Linked DNA regions of Homo sapiens: region 2 is linked to region 1. The links come from fine-mapping of genetic effects on gene expression. Tissue or cell type: testis. Region 1 holds a variant in brackets; the other region holds the start of a gene. All regions are shown on one strand. Distances are from middle to middle.

Evidence for each region. PIP is the estimated chance that this variant, and not a neighbour inherited with it, causes the effect.
Region 2: it holds the start of HKDC1, and the variant in region 1 is fine-mapped to the expression of HKDC1 in testis (GTEx, PIP 0.99).

The regions. Positions count from the first base shown.
Region 1 is chr10:69,191,267-69,199,618 of GRCh38, reverse strand. It overlaps SUPV3L1 (Suv3 like RNA helicase), which reads right to left. Exons shown (of 15, transcript NM_003171.5): 6 at 7,853-7,964; 7 at 4,354-4,431; 8 at 2,536-2,627; 9 at 1,067-1,247; 10 at 422-515. Among named protein-coding and RNA genes, the nearest start is that of SUPV3L1, 15 kb to the right of the region's middle. The variant A/G (reference allele first, on the strand shown) is at 3,557.
Region 2 is chr10:69,215,416-69,223,415 of GRCh38, reverse strand. HKDC1 (hexokinase domain containing 1) reads right to left here and starts at 3,084. Exons shown (of 18, transcript NM_025130.4): 1 at 2,918-3,084. The coding sequence starts at 2,980. LOC101928994 (a long non-coding RNA gene) reads left to right here. Exons shown (of 5, transcript NR_120648.1): 3 at 191-249; 4 at 391-539; 5 at 6,644-8,000. RefSeq lists an enhancer at 5,058-5,227.

The DNA of each region.
Region 1 (8,352 bases):
TGGAGGCCAGGAGTTAGAGACTAGCTTGGGCAACAGGGTAAGACCTTGTCACTACCCAAAAAAAAAGAAAATAACCAGGCTTTGTGGTGTGCACCTGTGGTCCCAGCTACTCTGGAGGCTGAGGCAGGAGGATCACTTGGGCCCAGGAGTTCAAGACTGCACTGAGCTACAATTTGATCACTGCACTCCAGCGTGGGTAAAAGAGCAAGACCCTGTCCCTAAGAAAAGTCCTGGCACTATTTAATATTTTCTTTTTATTTCCCTCAATAGGTGTAGGCAAGACAAACCTCAAATCTAGCCTATAATATTTATTCTCCCAAATCATAGCGTTTGGTCATTAATGCCAATTAGAAAACTGAAAAACAAAAAAACCACCATTTAACTCACCAAATATTCATCTTATTAAAAACAAATTACTTACAAATTAAGTCCCATGCCAATTGCATCTGTAGCAACCAAGATTTTGCATGGGTCATTGGGATCATTAAACTTTTTTGCTTGAGCAAGTTTGGTCCCTAAAACAAGAACAATTTATGTTAAATCAGTGTTCTCAGTCTTTTATTACATCAAGCTAAGTACATCTTGGAAACCCTCACCTCCTGTTCTTCCCATTTTTAATGATAAAACCTTTACTGTTTCAAACTTTATTTCTTTATATCCTCAAAGAGCCACTTATCCTTTACATCCATTCCTTCAAATACTCCGTCATATAGCAACACAATCCCCCACCACACTAGCCTTATTCCTGAGGACACAGATTTCAGGACTACAACTTAAAAGGACATGGTCAAGACCAGATTTCAATGACATTTCTGTAAGAAAATAATAAACTCAACATTTAAGATACAGTCTAATAATAGCAGCAACTAACAAGAACTATAATTAAAATACTTCTATTTCCACTAAGATGAAATAGAAAATTATTTATTTTATATGACGTTTAACAAATTACCAATACATCAAGCAGCTTAATTCAATATTGTTTACCATTTTTTTATATATATCTCAACATAAATTGCAAAGATAGGAGATTTCATATCTTGTCACGAGGAAAGTCAATAATTACCAGGTGGGAGACTGCCATATATAACAGCTGATTCTAATCCCCGAATTTCAATCTGCCGACTCACAGAATAAATATCATTCTTGCTAAAACAGACAATGCAGTCCCCAGGCCGAAGGTTATCTAAAGATTCTAGTGCATGGTCCAGCACAGAAATGGGGGTAAGCCTCTTATAGTCTCGAACCTACAATAAAGACATGAAATGGCAAAATGACACACCCAACTCAACTTCTTGTGACTAGTAATTAAGTGAAAAGATTGTAATGCAGTTAAGAGTAGCTAAAAACTGATAAGTACCAATGTTTTTCAAAAGAAAACACAGAAAAACATTTATTTTGATATTATAAGTGTTACCATCACTTCTCATTGGCATCTCTAAATTAATAAGATGAAACAGAGTGTTTCACCTGTTTTCAAAGCTTTTTCTCATATATTTCATTTTCACGGCAATGTGTTAAGTTCAGAAAGGTTATTAACTGCTATTTCCATTTTATAAAATAGTAAAACTGAGCCCAATAAAAAATTAATGTCTGAGGCACATTTTGCAAGTCTAACCTTCTGTGACTTGTCTAAAGAATGCAAAGCTAAGAATGGCAAAACACAGAATGGACTCCAAAATTTCTTCCACTATATTCCACTATCTCTCCTTGAAAACTGAGCACAAAACTAAAATAACAGGCTAATTCAAAACTATTTCCTTGGCTTATGCTTATAATCCCAGCACTTTGGGAGGCCAAGGTGGGAGAATTGCTTGAGCACTGGAGTTCGAGACCAGCCTTGGTAACACAGTGAGATGCCCTCTGCTCAAAAAATAAAAAATTAGATGGGCATGGTGGCAAACACCTGTAGTCCCAGCTATTTGGGAGGCTGAAGTGGGAGGATCACTTGAGTCCAGGAGGCTGAGACTGCAGTGAGTTGTGATTGCACCACAGCACTCCAGCCTGGGTAACAGAGTGAGACCTTGTCTCAAAAAATAATAATAATAATAATAATTCATTTTACTATAGAACTCTGGTAAAGAAAAAGAGAAGCAGGATTAAAAGGAAACCAGTTACTTCCAACTCTAAGAATTTCAAAAAGGAATATAAACTGTGTCTGGCAATTAGATGTGTATCAAAGGCCCCAATATCTGACATACAACACTTTGAAAACGACAAACTTGCTGGGTCTCCAACTTCTAAGAGTACTGATTTATTTAATTCGAAGAGATCTACTCAAGCCCCACAAGGTTTTGTCAAGAAGTGAAGAATTTCCTGTACTCTTGGAAGACTTAGGGTGTGATGACCACTCTGTCAGAACTTCAGATCATGAGGTTCAATCAAATATATATGGTCTAGTTGATCACAAGAAAATGAAGCTTTCTTTTTAGTTAAGTTCTGACGCTGGCATTATCTAGGGCCTCTGAAGCCACTGCCTAGGTACTCTGGACTATTTGATATGCCACCTGGAGAACAAAGCATCTAATCGAATACCTCCACTTCCTCCCCCGTTGTGTACATAAGCTCCATCACCAGGTCAATAGCAGCAGGTTCTCCACACAAATGAACCTCTTCAGCACACAGTCCTGTCAATGCAAAACTGGGTTTCTTAATTTTAAAGATTTATAATTAAATATACAACATTTTACATAGCCAAAGTACTTTACGTTGGCTTACATATTGCTTTACAACCTTACCAAGTATTTTCAAAAATATTATCTCTGATGCAAACCTTGAAATAATCACCAACTTCTAATGGGCAAAGATTATCCAATTTTTATTAATCTCAGGCCTTTTAAATTGCTTTGGCCAAAGTTTCAACTCTATCAGAGTGAAATGAGCCAGGATTAGAAGCTGGCATTTGGATGCTAAGTACTGAACACAGACCCTATACTTGTGTTTTTCAAATTAGGCTCCATGGAATCGCTGAGGTACCTCAGAGGTTGGGGGTTGGAGGGCAGAAGAAACTCCAAGCTCCTTATCCCCGAGCAGATCCACTTCCATGTATTTTACATAACAGGCTTCAATGTATACTCTTTGTTTAAAAAAAGAGTTCAGCCTTTTTTTTTTTTTCCATGAGACAGAGTCTTGCTCTGTCGCCCAGGCTGGAGTGCAGTGGCATGACCTCGGTTCACTGTGGTTCACTGCAATATCTCCTTTCCAGGCTCAAGTGATTCTTGTGCCTCAGCCTCTGGAGTAGCTGGGTTACAGGCATGCGCCACCACGCCTGGCTAATTTTTATATTTTTAGTAGAGACAGGGTTTCGCCATGTTGGCCAAGCTGGTCTTGAATTCCTTGCCTCAAGCAATCGGCCAGCCTCGGCCTCCCAAAGTGCTGGGATTACAGGCGTGAGCCACCGCACCCAGCCAAGTTCAGCTATTTGTTTTTAAATTTGAAAACATCTGCCCTAAAACATGATCAAAAATTCACTCCAACATCAAGCAGTAGAAATGTTCATTCATGTCTATGGACCTCAAGAACTCCACTTACAGGAGCCTATCCTAAAGAAATAATT[A/G]AAAAGATAAAAAATAAGCTGGGTGTAGTGGCTCATGCCTGTAATCCCAGCATTTGGGGAGGCTGAGGTGGGAAGAGTGCTTGAACCCAGGAGTTCAAGACCAGCCTGGGCAACATAGGGAGACTCTGTCTTTACAAAAAATTTAAAAAGTTAACCAGGGGGCATGTTGGCAAACAGCTGTGGTCCCAGCTGCTCGGGAGACTGAGATGGGAGGACTGCTTGAGCCCAGGAGGTCAAGGCTGCAGTGAGCCACAACTGCGCCATCACACTCCAACCTGGGCATCAGAGCAAGACCCTGTCTCAAAAAATAAAAAGCTTTGGCCACAAAGATTTTTACTGCAGCGTTATTAGTAATAGGGAAAAAAAGGTTCAACTCTATGGAGCAAATTACAGTATTGCCCTTCAATAGAGATATGCGATCATATTAATACATAATGAAAAATGTCACATGAAAAACAGCAAGATACAAAACTAATGTTCTCAAAACACCATATGCACATACAAAAAAGAAAAGACTAGCATGAAACACACCAAAACATAAATTGTAGTTGTGTAAATATGAGATTTGAACATTTTAACTTTAATTACATGGTTATGCTAGTTTTAGCACAGGAAAAAATAGATTTCCCATTATTAAAATAATATTTAGAAAATAAAAACTCATACTTAGTTTACTTTTTTGTGTCAAAAAGAAAGGTTCTAGGTGACTCTATTTGGTTGGCAATGGCAAGCAGATAAAAATGCATCTCAGCGCAGATGTCATAAAGCACGGGTTTTATAGCATTACGACCACCAACCTAGAAGTGCTCTGGTCCAGGCCCATCCTCTGGCTGGATCTCTAATCATTTGAATTTCATCAATTACAGCCACTTCATCTTAAAATAAAAAAGTTAACATGAGCAATACCATCTACTTAAATAGTATTATAAACAAATTCCAACACCAAAATTCAAGCATCACCATCACCACTACCACCATCACTTACTGGGTTCCTCTTTTCCAGCAGGTTTGTTCTAAGTGTTTTACCTCCTCTTAAGTACCTCCTCTTTAATCCTCACAACAAATCTATGAGGTTAAGTATTATCACTATCTCCATTTGACAGAAAAAGTCAGAGGCCCAGAGAAATTAAGTTACTTGCCTTAAGTTATACAGTTAAATGCAGAGATGAAATTCAAACCCAGGCCATCTAGCTCCAAAGTCTATACTCTTTTTTTTTTCTTTTTAATTTAGATACAGGGTCTCACTGTTGTTCAGGATGGCCTTGAACTCCTGGGTTGAAAGTGATCTTCCTAACAGTGTCTCACTGTCATACAGCCTGAGTCCAGTGGCACAATCATAGCTCACTGTAACTTCAAACTCCTAGGCTCAAGCAATCCTCCTGCCTCAGCTTCCAAGCAGCTGGGACTACAGGCACGCAGCACCATGACCAGCTAATTTTAAAAACATTTTCTTGGGAGGTCGAGGCGGGTGGATCACAATGTCAGGAGATCGAGACCATCCTGGCCAATATGGTGAAACCCCGTCTCCACTAAAGATACAAAAATTAGCCGGGCATGGTGGCGTGCGCCTGTAGTCCCAGCTACTCTGGAGGCTGAGGCAGGAGAATCATTTGATCCCGGGAGGCGGAGCCTGCAGTGAGCCAAGATTGCACTACTGCACTCGAGCCTGGGCAACACAGCAAGACTCCAGCTCAAAAAAAAAAAAGGTTTTTTTTTCTTTAGAGATGAGGGTCTTGCTATGTTACTCAGGCTGGTCTCGAACTCCTGGCCTCAAGCAATCCTCCCATCTCAATCTCTTAAGTAGCCAGAATTAACAGGCACAAGTCACCACATCCAGCTCCAAGTCCATACTCTTACATACTCTACCACACTGCCTCCCACACTGAGCAGTTCCACTTGTCCTGTTTTTTTGCAATCTAAGAGACAGCCTGGAGAATTTCTCTGATGAGAACTATCACATCTGGACAGAAGTAAAAGAAGAAGGCAAGTTCCAGAACAAGGAGGTGACAGCCCTTCATTTACTAATGAAGCATCTCTACCACAGGAAACCAGGCAGCTCTCAGGAGCAGAAAGTGAAGTGGAAGGAATAATTCCTTGGGCCTCAGTCATGCTCATCCTTAGGGGTTTTAAATCCATCGCTATGGCAAAAAGTAGTGTCTCATCTCATTTTCTAAAGCTAAAATGCTTCCAAATACCTTATTCTATTCCCTGTAATTCATATATTATATTTTACTTTCTTCCCCAAATACTACAGAATTGAAAAGAGAACATTTAAAAATACAATGACACTTAGGAAAGTAAAGAAAGCTAATTTTATATTGAACAATCATCAGATTAAAAATTACTTATTGAGGCTGGACATGGTGGCTCATGCCTGTAATCCCAGCACTTTGGGAGGCCGAGGCGAGGCGGACTGCTTGAGCCCGGGAGTTCGAGGCCAGCCTGGGCAACAAAGTGAGACCTCTTCTCTACAAAAGAAAAATTTAAAAGTGAGGCAGGAGGATTGTTTGAGCCCAGGAGGTCACGACTGCAATAAGCTGTCATCGTGCCACTGCACTCCCACCTGAACGACAGGAGTGAGACCCTGTCTCAAAAAAAAAAAAAAAAAAACTACTTCGTGATCTGGATATGTACAAACAAGACTAGAAGAGAAGACATAGAGAAGAAATTCTGATTTATAAACTTCTGTGCAACTGTACAATATATTACTTTATAATGTATTGATTTTTTAAAAACTATTCTTCTCACAAAGTTGATTATTAAAATGAAAAAAAGCAAGCTACCAAATAGTAAAGTACCTTCCTATTTGTTTAATATACACACCCACCATGCACATATAACTATATGCATACACAACATGAACACAAATATTAACAAAGTCTGGAAAATATATAGGGTTAATTAACACCTATTGATTCCGGATAGGTGGGACTGGGAAATTATGTACATTTGTTTTCTTCTGTTTGCTTGCTTACATTTTTATATTTTCAATAATGAAGATATGATTGCTTACATAATAAGGAAAAAGTTAATTTTCACTTAAATGTTAAGGCCAGGTGCGGTGGGTTATACCTGTAATCCCACTGCTTTGGGAGACCTAGGTGGGAGGACCACACAAGGCCAGGAATTAGAGACCAGTCCGGGCAACACAGCAAGAACCCATCTCCACAAAAAATTTATTAATAAAAAATTAGCTGGGTGTGGTGGCTCACACCTGTAGTTGTAGCTACTCAGGAGGCTAAGGCAGAAGGATTGCTTGAGCCCAGGAGGTCGAGGCTGCAGTAAGCCATGACTGCGCCATTGCACTTCAGCCTGGGTGACACAGTGAGCCCCTGACTCAAAAACAAAACAAAACAACTTTAAATAGAAGCTCATTGTGGCAGTGTACATAACAGGAAAAAACTTTAAACAACCTAAATATCCTTTAACAAATGGGGAACAAATAATTTCAGTTCTAAGATGGAATACTATAAAACAGTTTAAATGAAATAACTACAAATATGTAGCTATAGATACTTCAATAAGACTAGATAGATCTAAACACATTTGTGGAGTAAACAAGCAAGTGGTAGAACAATAATAATACAATAATCACATAAATGTTTTAAAACACAACAATCTAGAATACTGGTAATACGTATCAGTGATATAATATATATCCTGAAAAGAGACAGGAAAACTATACACACCAAATATCTGTTACCAGTTAGAACAAAAGAGGAGAGAGGAATTAAACTGGAGAGTGGTACAAAGGAAATTTCAATTATGCTTATTAACATTTCAGCTCTTTTAAGAGAAAAAGGGAAAGAACTTCAGGTGCAGGCATTTGTCAGTGGTGGCAGGATCGCACGTTTGTCATACTTATTCTCTTCTTTTTCTAGATTTTAAAATTTTTTCTTCACACAAAAAAATCGTATTTCACATGTTCAAGTGTATTTTAAAATTAAAAATACCATGGTCAGGCGCAGTGGCTCACGCCTGTAATCCCAGTACTTTGGGAGGCCGAGGTGGGCAGATCACCTGAGGTCGGGAGTTTGAGACCAGCCTGACCAACATGGAGAAACCCCGTCTCTAGTAAAAATACAAAAATTAGCCGGGTGTGGTGGCGGGCACCTGTAATCCCGGCTACTTGGGAGGCTGAGGCAGGAGAATCGCTTGAACTGGGGAGGCAGAGGTCGCAGTGAGCCGAGATAGTACCATTGCATTCCAGCCTGGACAACAGAGCAAGACTCTGTCTTGAAAAAAAAAAAAAATTAAAAATACCAAACCATAGTTTCTTAAACAGCATATACATACAAGGAGTTGTAACACTGCACATCTCAACTGTACAAGAAACATGTGAAGCCTGTTTCCCATTTGGCTGAACTGTCACACGCTCTTCACCTGTCACCAAGTCACATGGCACACCCTAGAAAGACAGAAAAAAAACTAGAATTATTGAAAATAATGCAAAAATACGTTTTGGATATTTAACAGGGTGTTCTCTCCACTACCACCAAATTAGTTTGTTTCACAGTTAAAACATAATGTTCCCACGGCCAGACACGGTGGCTCATGCCTGTAATCCCAGCACTTTGGGAGGCTGAGGTGGGCAGATCACAAGGTCAAGAGATAGAGACCATCCTGGCCAACATGATGAAATCCCATCTCTACCAAAAACAGAAAAAGTAGCTGGGAGTGGTGTTGCACACCTGTGGTCCCAGCTACTCGGGAGGCTGAGGCAGGGGAATCACTTGAACTGAGAGATGGAGGTTCAGTGAGCCGAGATCATGCCACTGCACTCCAGCCTGGAGACA
Region 2 (8,000 bases), 24 kb before region 1:
ACACTGTAACAGTAAGTGAGGGAAGCAGTTCAGAACTGTATGTACCTTATAAACATAACTAAAAACATACAGGATGAAGAAAAACTAGGAAGGCTTCCACCCAGCAAATATGAAAGTGTTTGAGATTAAAAGTAAATTAAAGGTGGAATTACAAGTAACATTTCCACTTTTTTGTAATGTTGACATACAGAGCCATGAAAAATACACACTGAAAACCTCCCAGTTCTCCTGTGGATGAACAATCTGCAGGTCAGTGACCAGGTCTGGCCTGGTGCTATCAATAGGTCAAATAATGTCAATATATTGAATTGGAAAAGAATCTGTCAGAGTGGTTTCTATTTTCGTTTTTTTCATTTTGTTTTATTTTTGTTTCCATGCTGGTATGGGAAGATTTTTAGAAATTGTTCCAGGGTCTCAGTAGTAACCCTTGCAGGCACCGCTGGCCCAGGATCTGGACAATTCTAGAGGCAGGAAGCACAGAGACGAAGAAGGGGACTCACTGCCTGACCGCAGAGAAACGAGCTGTGCCTTTTGACCAGGTGTGTTTCCACCACGTGTTGGGAGGAGTGTTCTCAGAACCATGACTCAGCCCAGCAGCCATAAACCAGTCTCCCACACTACCCCAGAGACTTCCTGGGGCACTTGCTTAAGGTGGCTATAAAAGTGCTTCCAACTTTCTCGCCTCCCACAGGGAGAGGGAGGTCAGCTCCCGGCATTGAAAAAGGCTGACTGTCCTTCCAGAAGGACCTGGAGCCCATCAGCAGAGGCTGCATTTCCCATCACAGGGTGCTCCTGAGCCTGCACCAGGGCTGTTGGACAAACATGTCCCGCATGATCCTAGGGTACAAAAGGTTAACCAACACAAAGGAGCCCAAGGAAATGAAATAAGTTTGCAGAATCAAAGGTTTCAGGGTTCCAAAGGCTCCCCCTTGGGGGTGGGAGAGACATGGTGCAACTTGTGCCTTTACTAAGCAGATAACAAAAGAAAGTGGATTCCTAGGCAGCGCCTCCTTAAGTAGCCAGTAGAGGGCTCTGAATCTAATCAACAAGTGATTGCTTTATAATGTTTTTAAATTTGCTACAACCTCTAACTCAACTCTCTAAATGAATAGAATTTAGTGGGAGTTTATCCCACCAAGTACCTGAGGGCTGTAAGGGGCCACACTTCCTCTCTCTCTTTCTTTGTTTTGTTTTGAGACGGAGTCTCATTCTGTTGCCCAGGCTGGAGTACAATGGCATGATCTCGGCTCACTGTAACCTCTGCTGCCCGGGTTCAAGGGATTCTCCTGCCTCAGCCTTCTGAGTAGTTGGGATTACAGGCGCACTCCACCACGCCCAGCTAATTTTTAAATTTTTAGTAGAGACGGGGTTTCACCATGTTGGCCAGGGTGGTCTCAACCTCCTGACCTCAGGTGATCCACCCACCTTGGCCTCCCAAAGTGCTGGGATTATAGGTATGAGCCACCATCCTTGGCCTTTTTTTTTCTTTTCTTTCCTTTTTTTTTCAGACAGGGTCTCACTCTGTCACCCAGGCTGGAGTGCAGTAGCGCAGTCTCCCGGGCTCAAGCCATCCTGCCACCGCAGCCTCCCGAGTAGTTGGGACTGTAGGCACACACCACCATGACCGGCTAATTTTTACATGTTTTGTAGAGATGGGGTTGCTCCATGTTGCCCAGGCTGGTCTCAAACTCCTGACCTCAAGTTTGAGATGAGATCTGCTCATCTCAGCCTCCCAGTGTATGCAGATTACAGCCGTGAGCCACGGTGCCTGGCCTCCTTATTCATTTTGTAAAGCAGGAGGGAGTCATGGCACAGCAGAAAGCATTGAAGGAAGAGTCAGCCAACTTGGATTTAATCCTCATTCCATCCTAAATACTTGGTGACCTTGGCTAAGTCCTCCTGCTAGGAGGACTTCTGTCATCTGCACTTTGAGAGATGCTTTTTGCCCAGGGCCGTGACAGCCAGCCGGTGTGGCCAGAGTAGCAGACTGGGCTCATTTTAGCTGCCTGGAAAGAACCCTGGTTCCCTCCTGTTGACCCTTGGCAACCTTTAACCAGCCCACTTTGGAATGAATTTTGTAGACAAGTTCCCTGAGCAAAGTGACAAAATAATGCACACCATGAATAGTGTACCATTGGCAAATAGCAGGTGCCAATAATAGATATTTCAATTACTGTCTATTGCAACTCACACCTTCTTGCTGCCCACATTTATATGCTTTCAAATACATGAACAAACAGATCTGCCCCAACAGTTCTTTTTTTTTAGATGAAGTCTCACTCTTGTCCCCTAGGCTGGAGTGCAATGGCGCGATCTCGGCTCACTGCAACCTCCACCACCTGGGTTCAAGCGATTCTCCTGCCTCAGCCTCCCGAGTAGATGGGATTACAGGTGCCCGCCACCACACCCAGCTAATTTTTGTATTTTTAGTTGAGACGGGGTTTCACCATGTTGGCCAGGCTGGTCTCGAACTCCTGACCTCAGGTAATCCGCCCACCTCGGCCTCCTAAAGTGCTAGGATTACAGGCGTGAGCCACTGCGCCCAGCCTTCTGCTCCAACAGTTCTTAAAACTTCTTTGAAAATGATTCTCCTCGCCTTTGTGGCCTTTCCGAGCAAACATCCCTTACAGCAAACACAATCCTCTTCAAGCTTTCCAAACACCCTCCTCACCCGCTTCCGCATCCAATACCTGCCAGGAAGTTCCGAGTGAAGTGTAAGGTTCAGGACAGTAATGCAATGCCCAGGAGTGTGGGAGAATTACTCCCTCTTCCCTCAGTGAGTCTTTTACTGGTCATATGCTCCCAGTATCTTTTCTAATAAGCTCTCTTCACTCCCTTCTGATTTTTTTTTTAAGGGAATCAGTTTTGTCCGTGAAGAAGGAGCTGGGCATCTCTCAGCTTCGTGGGTCCTCCTTACCTTCTTGATCTGGTCCTCCTTCAGCTTGCTGAAGTAAAATGCCATCAAGTGGACCGCAAACATTTTCCCCAAGTTTGGTTTCTCCTGAGATGGGCAGAGATTCCTGTGCAGTGTTCACTCCTACGACTCTGGAGTGTTGCACGCTTCCAGTCCAGGCTGGCAGACCTCCTGGGGAGCGAGGTGTTGCGGACTAAATACCTCCAGCCTGCTTGGTTCAATGATTAAACTCCCCCCCACCCCACCCCTTTGGTCCCTCCCTCTGGCACACACTTGATTGTCTAATAGGAGGCTCTGGATGGTAGCTGAGGTTTAGTGGAGGGGGAAGCAGGGTATTGATGGGTTGCTTGACTACTTGAGAATTGGGTGCCACCAAATCTCATTGCTAAGCAACCCTCTCAAGCCGGGGCTCTGCCAAGCCCACTCAGCCGAGGAAAATCTTCTGCGAAGTTGGGCACTAAACAAAGCCAACTTTCAACCGGTGGAGCTGCTCTGCAAATTTCCAGTCCCAGGCTTTTCTCTTTAGTTTTTTATGCCAGTGGCATAACTCTGTGACCCCCTGCTCCTCAGAAGCACTGAACTAACTAAAACTAAACATTGTCCTGGTCAATGGGATTTCAAGAATGTTGGGGCAGATTCTTCCATTTGTGACAGATCAGATCTCTTAACTAATAGCCCATGGTTAACAGAAAATGATCAATAAATGTTTACCTATTCACAGTGTTAAGCCAGAAAATCTTTAGTTCACAGGTAGTGACCCAGGAAAAAATATTCCTGAGAAAGAGTGAACTGAAGTCACCAGTGCTCACTGGGAATCACTGCTGGAGAGAAGGAAGTCACAGATAAGAAATGTCTCAGTCCAGCCGGGTGCAGTGACTCACGCCTGTAACAATCGCAGCACTTGGGGAGGCCGAGGCAGGCAGATCATGAGGTCAGGAGTTCGAGACCAGCCTGGCCAACATGGTGAAACCCCATCTCTACTAAAAATACAAAAAACTTAGCCAGGAGTGGTGGCAGGTGCCTGTAATCCCAGCTACTTGGGAGGCTGAGGCAGGAGAATCACTTGAACCTGGGAGGCAGAGGTTGCAGTGAGCCGAGATCGCGCCATTGCACTCCAGCCTGGGTGACAAGAGCAAAACTCCATCTCAAAAAAAGAAAAAAAAGAGAAATGTCTCAGGCCACTGAGATGTTTTATTCACTCACTTCTCACTCATCATACTTGACATGAGAAGGACCCAGAAAGCACCCAATACATGGGTACAATCAACCTTGCACTCTTCCCACAGTCACTGGCTGGCTAATGAAACCAATAACAACAGCGTTAACAACAGCGGCTAACATGGATGGAGCATTTACCAATCCCATTTTGTTTTTATTACTCTTGTTATTATTATTTTTTAGACAGGGTCTCATTCATCCCCCAGGCTGGAATGCAGTCGTGGAATCATGACTCGCTGCAACATCAGCCTTCTGGGCTCAGGTGATCCTCCCATCTCAATCCCCAGGGTAGCTGGGGCTACAGGCACGTGGCACCATGCCCAGCTAATTTTTGTATTTTTGTAGAGATAGGGTTTTGCCATGTTGCCCTGGCTGGTCTTGAATTCCTGGGCTCAAGCGATTTACCCACCTCAGCCTCCCAAAGTGTTGGAATTACAGGCATGAGCCACTGCTCCCGGCCCACTCTTATTTTATAGATGAAAAAATTGAGGCCCAGAAAGGTTACGTGATCACAAAGCCATAAACAGGACAGCAAGGGGTCAATCCTGGAAGTTTGATTCCAGGGCCCAGCTATAATACATGGCATTGGCTCTCCAGCCCTGCTTTCTCCACGCAATAGATACTCAATAGATACGCAATTGATAACTATTAGTAGCAGCATTCTGTTGGGATGTTAAGAATTTGTTTTTCTTTTTCTTTTTTTTGAGACAGAGTCTCACTCTGTTGCCCAGGCTGGAGTACAGTGGCTCAATCTCAACTCACTGCAACCTCCACCTCCTGGGTTAAAGCAATTCTCCTGCCTCAGCCTCCTGAGTAGCTGGAATTCAGTGCTCTCTACCCATTGCCGTGTGGACGAGCCATCAGGTCTCACTTAAGCCCACAATGCAGAGGAGGCTCGGTTAAAATTACTCCAGATGCTTTATTCAGATTGATATAAGCATATTAAAACTGTCTCCCAGATTGAGGATCCCCATCCTTTTCAGTCAATTTACCCTCAGACTATGACTTTTAGCTTGCTCCTTTATTACACAAGCAAACAAAGATGAACCTTTAGTTCCCCAAACCATTCAGTGCCCCAAACCAGGTGGAATTGTTGGTATTCTGAAATGCGCATCCTAGGCCCTAGCCCCCATTGGCTGAGGATAACATCCTGGGAAGGCCATCTGCCCGTAAGTGATGACATTATTTATCCTAATTCCCCCACTAGTTGATTTATTTCAGAAACAGAGTCTCACTACATCTTGTCTTGCCCAGGCTGGATTTGAACTCCATCCAGTCTTGCCCAGGCTGGATTCGAACTCCTGGGCTCAAGTGATCCTCTGGCTTCAGCCTCCTGAGTAGCTAGGACTACAGGCTTGCATCACCACACCCAGCATTTAATTCCCCCATTTAAAAAGTAACCTGGGCTGGGCGCAGTGGCTCACACCTGTAATCCCAGCACTTTGGGAGGCTGAGGTGGGAGGTGGGCAGATTGCCTGAGGTCAGGAGTTCGAGACCAGCCTTGCCAACATGGTGAAACCCTGTCTCTACTAAAAATGCAAAAATTACCTGGGCATGGTGGCGGGTGCCTGCAATCCCAGCTACTCAGGAGACAGAGGTAGGAGAACTGTTTAAACCCAGGAGGTGGAGGTTGCAGTGAGCCAATATTGCACCACTGCACTCCAGCCTGGGCAACAGAGTGAGACTCCATTTCAAAAAAAAAAAAAAATGTAACCTGGGCAGTGCAGTATGAACCAACTGTCATTGATTTGTTCGACATAGGGATAAGAGGTTACAGTAGCCAGTGGTCAAAAGATGCAAACCATAACCAAAGATCTCTGTAATCTCACGGTTGCTTGTGTGAGTCAGATAGGCAGCCTTTGGAATTTTAATCAGGCAAATGACACCAGAGGATTTTCATCTATTGCATCATTCCCTTTTTAATCTGAGCACATTAGCGTCTACATTCCAGGCCTGAGTAAGGTGACTAAACCAGGAAGTTTAATGATTACAGAGATCACATGCATTTGGAGTCATCTAGCTCAGCCCTCTCACTTTATAGAATCAAGACAAAATAATTAGGTTATTTTATCATTCCTCATCTGATTACTCCAATTCAAGTCTTGGGATTTTTCACCCTTACTACAGTTCTATTGGCTATTCAAGGATATCTAGGTTTAAATCTTATAAGTAGTTGGATTTTGCTTAAGAACACCCATTTGAGGGCCGACACTGACAAGTGACATTTTAGTTAAAGCGTATCACCCATCTGGCCCAAATCTTCCATGTAAGAAGGGAAACTCTCCCATCTGTAGACACATCTCCGTTTCATAGAGCTCCACTTTAATCTACACGGTCCGTTTTGGCAAGGCTCAAAGATAATTTCTGTTTCTCTTTAAGTACTGAGTATGGTGGGAGGACTAGAAGTCCAGCAAAATTTACCTATTTATTTAGCAAACACTTCCCCATGGGGTTTACTAGATGTCTTACGATATTAATTCCACAGTAACTGTCATTCTCCCTATTTTACAGATGGAGAAACCAAGGCACAGAGCCCAACTGGGACGCAGTGAAATCGAGATTTGAACGCAGGCAGTCTAGCTGCAGAGTTCTTGCTTGCCCGCTGTGCTACACTGGCTAGGCTGGAAACAAGGCACGGGGAGACTTGGGGCCTCAGCTGGAAAAATGGCCCTAAGCTCTTTCTAACACAGTGGAAAGTGCACAGGCCCTGGGGTCCTACTTTGGCTTTTCTTAAACTGCAGGTAAAGGTCCAAGTCTATATTCATATCTGTAAAAGCTTCATAGCTATGTCAGTGGTCACAGTGAGAAAGAAAGCAAATTATCACACAAGGAAAGGCATGTGGTCTACAGTGGGCACACTAGAAGCATCTCCTGAAGCTCAGCCTTTCCCTGGCTGGGGACCCCTCTTCGCTCACCCAACTTGGTCTCTTGGGATAAGAAAATGTGTGCAGACCTTTCAGTCCACTCAGTAAGGCATGATCCTAAACCATTAGAAAGTACCTGTTCCATGTACTGGAATTAAAGGAACAGTTGGGAATTTTATGGAAATTCTATTCCTGTTACTAAAGAAAACAGCTCTTGAATTCTGCCCTGTATTCTTTTTAATGGTAAGTCCAAAGTTAAGTCGTCATAACATAAATCAGTGTGACCTGCTGGTATTCCACTTGCTGCAAAAGAATCAGAAACTGTGTGGGAGAGCAAACTTCCATAATAAGAAAACCAATGTAGAGACTTCCAAACGCTGCCAGTGGTTACAGTCACAATGGTGTCTCTATCGGAGCAGCCACAAATGAAGCAGAAATGCTAACCTCAGCAAGTTTCAAAAGAATGCTGCTAATCATTTTTACAGGTTTATTCTGAACCGAAGACAAGGAATGCTCAGGAAGAAATTCTGACATGATTTCTAAATCACAACTGTACATTAAGGGTCATATTTGCAAAACACCTATCAAGGAAAGAAAAGCCATACAAGAAAATGCAGTTCATGTGACTTTTAACATTTTTCAGAATAATTACAATCTCAATTGCACAAAATAACCAACTTTTCAAAGCAAATGAGACTTCTGGTTAAACACGGCATTAACCTACAAGGACAAAAAGAAAGGAAACAGTGACTGATAAGAGATCTTAACATAATTCTGGAAGACAGGAAGCTCACGGAAGTAATTGCTTAGTAGAGCAAACACTGAAACCTGAGTGCCCGCAGAGGGTGACTCGGGTGAGAAAGGAGCTGTGACGTTTGTAAAACTCTAAAATGCTCAGGAATCAGAGGTCTGGGGCAAGACATAGAGCCAAAAACAAGAGATTGGTTAAAAAGCTATATAAAAAAGCTTGGCCAGGCACGGTGGCTCACCCCTGTAATCCCAGC